Linked DNA regions of Homo sapiens: region 2 is linked to region 1. The links come from fine-mapping of genetic effects on gene expression. A gene starts in region 1. The other region holds a variant in brackets. All regions are shown on one strand. Distances are from middle to middle. Region 1 holds the start of LINC02656 (long intergenic non-protein coding RNA 2656). Region 2 overlaps PFKFB3 (6-phosphofructo-2-kinase/fructose-2,6-biphosphatase 3).

The links. PIP is the estimated chance that this variant, and not a neighbour inherited with it, causes the effect. A credible set is the group of variants that fine-mapping cannot tell apart.
Region 2: its variant is the best candidate, but not a certain one, in a credible set for the expression of LINC02656 in whole blood (TOPMed, PIP 0.78).

The regions. Positions count from the first base shown.
Region 1 is chr10:6,347,031-6,352,401 of GRCh38, forward strand. LINC02656 (long intergenic non-protein coding RNA 2656) reads left to right here and starts at 3,286. Exons shown (of 1, transcript NR_148966.1): 1 at 3,286-5,371. RefSeq lists a cis regulatory region at 980-1,480.
Region 2 is chr10:6,227,003-6,232,373 of GRCh38, forward strand. All of the region lies in intron 14 of PFKFB3 (6-phosphofructo-2-kinase/fructose-2,6-biphosphatase 3), which reads left to right. Among named protein-coding and RNA genes, the nearest start is that of PFKFB3, 27 kb to the left of the region's middle. The variant G/A (reference allele first, on the strand shown) is at 3,181.

The DNA of each region.
Region 1 (5,371 bases):
ATAAATACTCTACATTATGGTTTTTTTTGTTTATTTGTTTGTCTTGTTTTGAGACAGGGTCTCGCTGTCACCCAGGCTGGAATGCAGTAGTGCAATCATGGCTCACTGCAGCCTTGACCTCCTGGGCCCAAGTGATCCTCCCACCTCAGCCTTCCAAGTAGCTGGGACTACAGGCATGCAACACCATGCCCAGCTAATTTTTAAAATTTTGTTGTAGAGACAGGATATTGCTATACTGCCCAGTCTTGTTTCCAACTCCTGGCCTCAAGTGATCCTCCCCCGTCAGCCTCCCAAGGCATAAGTTACTGGTGTGAGCCGCTGCGCTGGCCTATATTATATGTTTTTGCTGCTTCTGTTGGGGAAGAATTTGGTGTTTTATCTGAGAGAGATGACAGGAACCTTGGCCAGATGCCACCCCCAGAAACTCAGTGTCCTTCTGTTGGTAGCTGCTTGCCTCTTTGCTGCCCCTATCAGAGCAGAGTTGTTCATTTGCTTCTCTGAGCACATCTTGTGTGGAGTCTCGGGCCCCAGACAGCAGGGCTGCAAATGACACACTCAGCTGCAAGGCAGCAGTGATCTGTGGACGAGATTCAAATCCAGAGAAAAAAACGGAAGCCTCGAACTGCATCTGAAAACCAGCGAGAAAGAAGCAAATTCCTGTGAAATGGCACAGGCATCATTTCAGCGTTGACTCATTCTGCTCAAACCTGTCACCGCTCACACGGGAGTGGTCGTTGGAATAAGGGACTTCTCCTCAGGTGAATGACAAAGAAACACAGATTTGGATTTGCCCAGGTGTCTGGAGAGGAGGCTGCCCCTGGATGCCGTGCCCCACTGTGCAGAAAGGGGATGCCCGGGGCATTGTCACCGCAGCGAGTCTGCACCTACCATCCTCTGGCCCCTTTCTGCCACCTCTGCAGCATCTCCAATTAAATTTTAAAAAAGTAAAAGTGGGGACAAGAATCATCTGCCTGCCTGTGTTTGGCCCTCCTTCCAAGTTTTTGTGTTCTGTTTGAAATCAAACTTATGCTTTCTTCCAAAATGAATGACAGAGAAAAAAGAAAAAGCCACCCAGGCTTGAAAAGTGGTAGCTTCTTGCCGCCGACTTCCTGCCGGTGCCAAGTCAGAGGGAGCTCTGCGTGTCCTCAGTTCACCCTCGCCAGGCCACACCGCATGCAAATAAGAAGCTGTTTCAGTGTGTGCCCATCTGAGACGCTGACATAAAAAAGGAAGAAAGAAAGGAAAAAAACCACCGTCACCACCAACAAAAAAACCCAAAACTGATTAATTCTCGTAGATTGCAGCAGAGCAGGGGGCCTGGTGGTGACACATCCTGTTTTGCTGTTCAAGTTGTCATCCCCCAAGCCAATAAGCTCCCTCATGAACGGCACCAGTTATGAAGGGTGACAAAGAATTCAAAACACTCACAGGACAATTTTCCTAACCCTTGGTCTCTCGGAATGCTATTTTTTAGGCTAATTTGTTTTGATGAGAAAACTATGCCTGCTAGGCCTATTTTTAAGCCAGATTTGAAGTCAACGCAGTTGGTATTTGATCTTGCAAGAACGACAGAGGTGTCAGCAGCAGCTCTGCCATTTAAGAGCTGTAGCCTGGTGGGACACCGTCCTGCAACCAGGGCCCTAGCACAAGAAGTATCTCTGTTGTTATTTGCTTCTCTTCTTTGAGATCCATACTTGATTTGAAAAATCACCACTTGAGCGGCACCTGGTGATTACGTAACCATTCAACTCTGTGTTTTATCCTAGGGCTAGGTAAGAAATTGAAAATCCAGCCTGAAATAATTAGTTTAGCTGCAGACAGGGTGTATTAAACAGACTCAATTTAATAGAGCTAGAACCATAAGATGAATGTATTTATCTTCAATCAAAGATGACATGTTGGACAGATTCCTTCATTCATCACTTTTCTGTTATGTTTAGCCCTAAGGGAAGTCTTTTTTAGATACGTAAGATGCACCTTCAGGGTTAAAGCATCTAGTCCAGTCTGAATAAAACATCAAAAGCACCTACAATCCCAAGCTCCTTCAAGAACTTTGCAGGCAGTCTTCGGGTGAGTTTGGTAAGACTATTAATCGGAGTAATGAAATAAAGTATTATCACATCTATTTATTTTTCTCATTTTCTTTTAACTTCTCTTTTGTGTATGTTCTAAAATACACATAATTTTCAGTTCATAGGGCATTTTCCCCTTGTAAGTAAATATGAATATATTTCAGAGTGAGCTCAAAGTTTTACGTTAGATTTAGGTAGGCATTTTTTTTTTTTTTTTTTAAGATGGAGTTTCACTCTGTCACCCAGGCTGGAGTGCGGTGGCTCGATCTTGGCTCACTGCAACCTCCGCCTCCTGGGTTCAAGCGATTCTCCTGCCTCAGCCTCCTGAGTAGCTGGGATTACGGGCACCCACCACCACACCCGGCTTATTTTTGAATTTTTAGTAGAGCTAGGGTTTCACCATGTTGGCCAGGCTGGTCTAGAGCCCCTGACCTCAGGTGATCCACCCACCTCGGCTTCCCAAAGTGCTGGGATTACAGGCGTGAGCCGACAAGGTAGGCAAAAGTTAAAAACAAAAAAACAAAAAAACAAAAAAAAATTTGGAATAGTCTGTAACAGAGGAGGGCTTGAAGAGAAGTGAGGTGATTTGCAGAAGCATCAGCCAGGAGGCATTCCTCCAGGAGAAAAATTTTTACTTAAAGGAGAGAGCTTAGTGATGGAGAAGGAAAAGATCTCGACAGACATTCAAGATTAGAATCATAAGTTGGCCATTGATTGGGTGTGGCTCTGGGAAGTGGAGGTGCTGTGGGCAGGGGCTGGCTTGGGCAATGAGAAAATGGTGTTGCTTATGTGCCCACTCTGTGCTGGGACTCAGCTGTGAGTGCCTCCAAATTCACCACATTTATCAAACCTCAGTGCTCTGAGACAGCATATGATGGCCTAGCAGGATGTCCATTCTTTTCCTGGAACCACCCATCCAGTTATCTCCTTGAGTCGCCTGGGTGGTGAAAAGTGGTCTCATGCACAATGGATGCGGTGTGATCCCCTTGCTATGTCACGCATGGCGTCTGCCCTCTTCCCTGGCACCTGTGCCACTCCAGGTTATGCCTGTGCTGCTGCCCATTCTACGCCCACCTGGAAAGCCTGAAACCTTCTCGTGCCTTCTACTGCAGCTGGGGAGCTTCTTCCACGTCTCATAGCCAGCTTCTCCAGAGGGAACTCCCAGAGCTGACTGTACTTTCCTACCTCAGCCTCTTCTTCCTGGGATGGTGTCAAAATATGAACAGATACAGCTTCATGCTTTCAGGAAACCACCTTCTCTTCCATCTTCTCCTTTGGCCTGCTCAGACAGCCAGACTTCTTAAACATATTTTTCCTACAGGCTCATGCAAATTAAGGGATGTGGCTGAGCATCTCCTTCAGTGCCCTCAAACAGGTCATGAATGTTGCAAAGCCCAGAATCGTGCTAACCTGGTAGAAGGCTGGTTTAGCCAGAACACACAGAGAGGACCTTCTCATGATGGTGTGGCTGAATTCCACATGTCACTAACAGTATCTTGCCCTGACCCGACTCCAAGTACTGATCCCCAAGGAAGGCATAATAGAGAGCCCATCTTGGGGAGGGATGATGACTTCATGTGCAAACAAGTCAAATTCAGGATGTGTGTTGTGGGCAGAGATGGCAATGCCCAGTCATCTGTTAGGTATACAGGTCCGCTGTACAGGAGAAAAATCAGAACAGAATTTCTATTTGTAGTGTTTCTTTTAGAGACTAGGGAATTGAAACCACAGGTGAATAAGAATGTACAAGGAACCAGGCCTTCTTGAAGAAATAGCTGAACCAGATTGGTGTCAGGAGCTGTACAAGGGGATCCAAGAATGTCTTGTCATACAAGCCGGACAGCTATTAAAGACAACTGAGGTCATGGCAAAAGGGCCCAGGCTTCTACTGGCCAACAATGAGACAATTTGAGCATCCCAAAGAATAATGACTTTAGTGGACTGAAACACATCAACATGTATACATCCATGAATTCATAATACTCAAAACGGTAAAACCAAACTCATTTGTTACCTTTGGAGGAGTCTGTCACCTCTGATTATTCTGAAAACTGGTAAATAGAAGGGGAAAATTCAAGCATTTATTCTGCTTTTCTTGTATAAACTGTACCTCACAGTTACGGAAGAGCTGATAAGGGAAATGTCTTCTTTATTGAAAAATTCAGCTGATACATTTGGAAGGAATGAGAGAATTACAGTACCACCATTAGGTGACAATGAGGGTCTGGTTTTTTATTTTTCTTTTGCTGAGTGCTGGGAACATAGTGATAACAAAAAAAGCCATAGTGTTCTGGCCCTTCTGGAGTTTTGATTCTAGCACATTAACCAAATAATCCCAGAGCAAAAATAAAATGTCAACTATGGTAAGTGTAGAGAAGGGAAAATACACAGAACTTTTAACAGCTTAGATCCGAGGAAGCTGACCAGCCTGCAAAAAGGGACAGCTTCCCTAGGGAAGTGACTTTGCAGCTGTGATGATGGATGACTAAGAGTTAACCAAGGAATGGGAGGAGGGAGGAGGAGACAGAGAAGGCTTTCCAAGCAGAAGCCAGAGCATGTGCAAAGATCCTGTGGCAAGAAGGAGCCTGGTGCAGGGGAGGAACGAAGAGACATGCAAGCTGGCTGGAGTGCAGAGAGGGAGACAGGCAGGCAGGCAGGTGGTTGGATGGGGAGGCAAGGATCAGATCCTGAGTCCCTTGGAGAAGCAGGAAGGCATCATGATGACTAATGTCAGAGGCAGGGGAGGACAGGTAGGGATAGACAGGGAAGCAGTGCTGGGAAGATGCTAAAATGCTGCAGTTTGTGCTTGGAAAGATCATGGCCTGGTTCTTCCATTGTCATGATGGGTTGTTCTCTTTCTTATTGTTTTTCTAATTTGTCTTGACTAATGGAGAAGATCAGGAGCTCAAAAATAGAGGTTGTTTACAGCACTCAGTTTGGCTGCTATAGGTTAATGGGCTTAGACTCTTTAAGGGGATTAGGCTTTTGCTCAGAGACCAGTGGAGTATTCTAGCCAGGCTGTCTTGTGAAGGTGGTATGTTAAGAACTAGGTTTGTCTGATTTCTCAAATTAAAATGTGGTACATCAAATTAAATTTGAATTTCAGATAAATAACAACTAATTTCAGATGTGTCAGATAAAGAATGGATATGGCTCTAGTACAATATGGGATAATGAATATTTTCAGATAAATAGATGCCCTGTATTCTGTGTAGCAAGCATAACTAGAGAATCAATGTTAGTGCTCAAACTAAGAAGACTTTTGAGAAATTATCAGAGGTAAATACAAATATACATTT
Region 2 (5,371 bases), 120 kb before region 1:
TTGAACCCAGGAGGCGGAGGTTGCAGTGAGCCGAGATGGTGCCACTGCACTCCAGCCTGGGTGACAGAGGGAGACTCCGTCTCAAAAAAAAAAAGCAAAAAACCCCAACCCGATTTCACTTATTTCATTAATTTTGAAGGTTACAGGCCTGGAAGATTTTGGTTGTCAGACATTAAGATTTGTTTTCAGAAAACTGTTTGTTTTCAGAAAACTGGTCTTTTCCTTTACAGCCTGGAACCCTTGCAAATATGTGAGATGTAGGAATTTCTGTGCTTAAATTCAGGTACCACCCAAGGGTCTGCCCTACCTCCACCCTCCAGGCCTGCCCCCACAAATCAGCCCAGTGCAGCTTCCGGTCAGGTTTGTTGATGAGCCGGATGCTGGTGCTGGCTCTGAGCATCCTTTTCAGCCTGCCACCTCTTCCCGCCTTTTCCGAGACTTCCTTAGACCTCATGATGTCTGGAATGTGACCTGGGAGATGCTGCAGCCTCCACAGGTCACTTAACCTCTCCAGGCCTCAGTTTTTTCATCCAGGCAATGGGGGAATAATGGCAGTGCAGAAGTCAGATCAGATGAGGGGATTCATGCCCTGCATCAGGCCCAGTGTCGGGCATGTGGTGGGGACGCGTAGACACGGTGAGGTGGCTGTGATTAGCGGAAGCCTGGAGGCCTGGCTTTGGTGGTAGCTCCACACTAACATGAGTGCAGCAATTTAATTGCCCAGGTTCCTTCCCCTCCCAGGCCCTCAGTCTCCTTAGCTTTGCACATGATAGGAGCAGGACTGGGAGAGCTCTCATACATATTCCCTTGCAGGTCTCAGATCTGAGGGTTTTTATGAAAAGCCAGCAGAACTGAAATGGTGTCCCTGTGGCATCCGTTCTGATGGAAATGTGCAGTTGTATTTGGAAGTTCAGAGGCCGCTGCTTTGATGCTTGGGGGGACCAGGCTGGGGAAGGGGGTTGATATCCTGAGCTGCACAGACCTCCGTCGTGGAGGACGCAGTGGCAGGGGCTGCATCCTCCTGTCCGCTTCAGAGCTGCCCCTGGCGTTGGGAGGACAGTCCTTCAGGGTGGCCAGGTTCTTAGGGACGTCTGAAGCTGCTGGCTGGGCCGGCGTGGGGTTTTTCAGGGCTTCGTCCCTGCAGATTGCGCCCTGCCTCCTGACTGACTTCTCTCTCTGCTTCTCCTCCGCAGCCTTTGCTAGGGCAAGCCTGTCTGTAAGTATCTCTCCGATCATCGCTGCTGCTTGCACTGCTTTCTTCCTGCTTGCTCATTTGGCCTCCTGCCTGTTAAAATATTGAGGATGAGAGCAGTTTTGTGATGTGAGGTCTTCCGTGGGGGAAGGAGGAGATGGGCGTAGGAGTAGGGAGGAGAGATTCCTGAATGTTTTTGGAAAAGCGTGCAGGCGGTCATGGTGGCTGCACTACTGTTGGGTGTGTTCCGACACCGCCGCACGACCGCTGGCTTCTCCCCTACCCTCTCAGGGCTGCAGGTCGTGGTGTGTAATGGCCGTGGTTTAGGGCTCGGCATAAATCCACATTTCCTTATCAGAATCAGATCTTGGTGGCGAGCTGCATCTGTGCCAGGTGCCATTAGCCTTAAAGCCCCCTCCTGCCCCAGGAGTGTCCTTTGTTTTGGAAGGAAAACTTACTCAGAGCCTAATCTGTAAACCAAACCTATGGGGAATAGTGGGAGTGTGGTGGGGCCTGAGCTCTGAGCCTCTCCCTCCCCATGAGGACCCCCCACACCCCAAAAGAGCTCCGAGTGGAGACCCTTGGGGATCCGTTTGTCCTGGGTTGGAGCCTGCTCAGCGTCATAGTCACGCCCGGGGCTGGGTGCAGCCTCCATCTCTAACCCATGTGGTCACTTCTGCTCCTCCCAGAGCTCTCTGCAGAGTTTCAGGTTCAGCCTTAGCTCTGGCAGCCACTGGGTAGCTGGGGCTGTGTTCCCACTGCTCTGGGATCCCTTCCCCACCAGGAGCAGAGGCCTTCCTGCCACAGAACTTTAATGACAGCCACATGAAGTGTCATCCCCTTGCCCCCCCAAAAACACACCCGCCCCTTTATTTCCTGTTTGCTCCTTAAGTTACCTTAACTACTTTATGCAGAAACTGGAAAGGTGTGATGAGGAATGCAGCCTGAGATGCTGAAAAGAATGACTGGCTTTGGAAATGGGAGAGGTTTGGCATGGCGCTCAGATTTTGGTGGCAAAGGGGTGAAGGGCCAGAGGATGTACCAGTGTCCTCCATGTCCACGTTCCTTAAGACCACCCTGGGAGGTCGGCAGGGCAGTCAGTCCCCCGTTTAATGGTTGAGGGGCTGAGTGACCGGCCCGTGCTTCCAGCAGGTGAGCCGCAGAGCCGGGGCCTGAAAGGCCCCTTGCTTCAGAAAGCCGGCCGCCTCCTCTCTGCGGCTTCTGGGAGTGGGCTGGGTGCCCGTTCCCTGCTGCTGTCCTGAGGCCCCTGCCCTGTGACCCGCAAGGCATGGGCAGCTGTTGGACCCTCGTGTACCCCCACAGCCACCCCCTTGCAGCTGCTTCCCACAGCCAGGCTTTGCTTACCTAAGGTGGGCCTGCCCTTAACTTCCAGCTTCTTGGGGCGCACCCTCCATCCTCAGGGCCAGTGTCTGTGATGCGCGGGGCCAGCGTGCAGTGCTTCAGGATCTGGGCTTCTCCTTGTGTGAAACTTTTTGGACTTGGAGCCTGAAGGTTTTACATCTGTGCATGTCCTGATCCTTTAGACCAGCAGTCCCCGACCTTTTTGGTACCAGGGACCCGTTTCGTGGAAGAGAATTTTCCCCACCATGGCAGGGTAGGGGATGGTTTGGGGATAAAACTGTTCTGCCTCAGATCGTCTGGCATTAGATTCTCTGAAGGGAACGCACAGCCTAGATCCCTCGTGTGTGCTCCTCCGAGTCAGGTGGTAATGTTGGCCCACCCACCACCCACCTCCTGCTGTGTGGCCCGCCTCTCAGTGGGCTATGGACTGGGTACTGGTCCACAGCCCAGGGGTTAGGGACCCCTGCGTTAGACACGTGGCCTCATGTTGCCAGGAAAGAAATCTTTCTACTGGGAGGAGCCATTCGGGGATAGTCCCCCACCCGCTAAAGCTGATCTTACCTATCTCCAAGATGAACATAATAGTGCGTTTGCTAGAATCCCTCCTGTTCAGCAAAAATACATCC[G/A]ATGGACCCATCACACCTGACTCAGGTTGGAATTTCACTCTGGAGTCCCATTGTCCCGTCCATCCTGGGTGCGTGACCCCACATCTAGGATTGTAGCCACATCTGATTCTAGGAGTCCACCTGGGCTCTGTGACCAGAATTTATGATGAAAGTCAGACCAAGCCAGGCCTGCATCTTGGTTCTACTCCTCCTGGCCTCTATCCTTGGCACTCTGGGCAAGTTAAAGCAATTCTAGGACCTCAGCTTCCTCATCTGTAATATGGAGATAATAACTTCATAAAGTTGTCATAATGAGACTATAGATACAGCACTTAGCACAATATCTGGCCCCTAGGAAGTGCGTGGGGGATGACGGCTGCTGTTGTTATCAGGGAGGAACTTGGTGCCCTGGGCCTGTGGAGACTTCTGGGCTTGCTGGCATTGGGTCAGCCTTTGGATACCCTCCTGTAACCTGAGGGATTTCTTCTCTGGGGCAGCAGGAACACCCAGACTTGGGGAGGGGAAATCCCTGGGGTCTCAAGGCCATGGCCTGAAGTCTTTTTTTTTTTTTGAGATGGAATTCTGCTCTTGTTGCCCAGGCTGGAGTGCAGTGGCGCGATCTTGGCTCACTGCAACCTCCTTCTCCCGGGTTCAAGCGATTCTCCTGCCTCAACCTCCCGAGTAGCTGGGATTACAGGCGCCCGCCACCATGCCCGGCTAATGTTTGTATTTTTAGTAGAGATGGGGTTTCACCATGTTGGCCAGGCTCGTCTCAAACTCCTGACCTCAGGTGATCCACCCGCCTTGGCCTCCCAAAGTGCTGGGATTACAGATGTGAGCCACCACGCCCAGCCTAGAGTCTTCACCCCTGTGATCTTGGTTTCCCAGTAAGATGGGGACGAACAACTGTCCGGACCTGGTGCTCTGGGGTGCCTTCCTGGGGGCTGTGCCGGCTGCTTGGGATCGAGAGATCACCTGGCATTTGTGATGCAACCTTCATTTTTAAAATTTCAAATGCACACTAGAAAATCCTACTAAAGATTTTCTTTTTTTTTTTCCTTTTCCAACCTGTTTCTTCCTCTCCCCCACTCTGCTTGAAAGACGAACTGTCTGTCACATTTTCTCAAAGTTTTCTCCTTACTAACTGTGGAAGGTAAATGCCTGGGTGCATGTCCCTCTGTCCCGCACCGCGTCACGGCATCTGGGTCTGTGTGCAGACTGGCCATCGTGCAATGCGGGGCTCATCTGTCTCCATGCCGAGGTTGTTAAGTGCAACACCATTGTCGTGAGGTCCTTTCTAGTCTGTCTCTCACCCCCCACGTGTCCTGAGCTGGGGCCCCTGGGTGAAGGACGTGGACATCACCCGGTCTTGCAGGCTCTCCACTGTTATTGTTGCATCGCCATCACCTGTGGGTGCCGGAAGCTGTGGGCTGGTGGTGTTGAGGACAGGTTGGAGCCAGCAGATGCGGAGGGAAATGTCAGCCCTGCTCTGTGATCCCACAGCCCGGCTGGGGCTCTCCCTAGATATGAGGACCCAGGGCTCTCTGAAGAGAATTGCCCCCTCCCAGTGGGCACCCATCACTTCCATCATCCTTCGGCGGGCACCCATCAACCCCCGCAGGCAGCCGTCATCCCCTGGCAGGCACCTATCACCTCCTGGTGGGCACTCATCACCTCCCGGTGGGCACCCATCACCTCCTGGCGGGCACCCATCACCTCTCGGCGGGCACCCATCACCTCCCGGTGGGCACCCATCACCTGGGTTCCTGAGTCTGGCCCACGCCTGGGCGATAGCTCTGATGCTGCCCAGCCCCGTGACTTTCCTCCCTGTGGATGGCTCCAGCCTTGGACCCCCAGTTCTGTGTGGGGTGGGCATGGGCCACGGTGGCCCTGTGTGCCTGGGCTCTCTCCCACCCTCTTTAGAGCAGTCCAGGTGGAGACACTCAGGACTGGAGAGAATAGTTTTAAACATTGTGTGTTTTCTTGTTTTTTGAGGCGTAGGTGAAGCAGGTCACGGAAGGAGGCCCGCTGTGCAGTGGCTGCAGTCAGTTGTGTTCCTCGCTGATTTTGGAGCATGTTTTTTTGCGGGGGGTGGGTGGCGGGGGGGTTTGGTACTGGCCAGTGCCTTAGGGGTGGAACTCCCTGCGAGGGCCACTGTGATCAGAAGTGGGGCAGGGCTTTAACAACACCCCTCTGCCTGGCTCCCCACCTG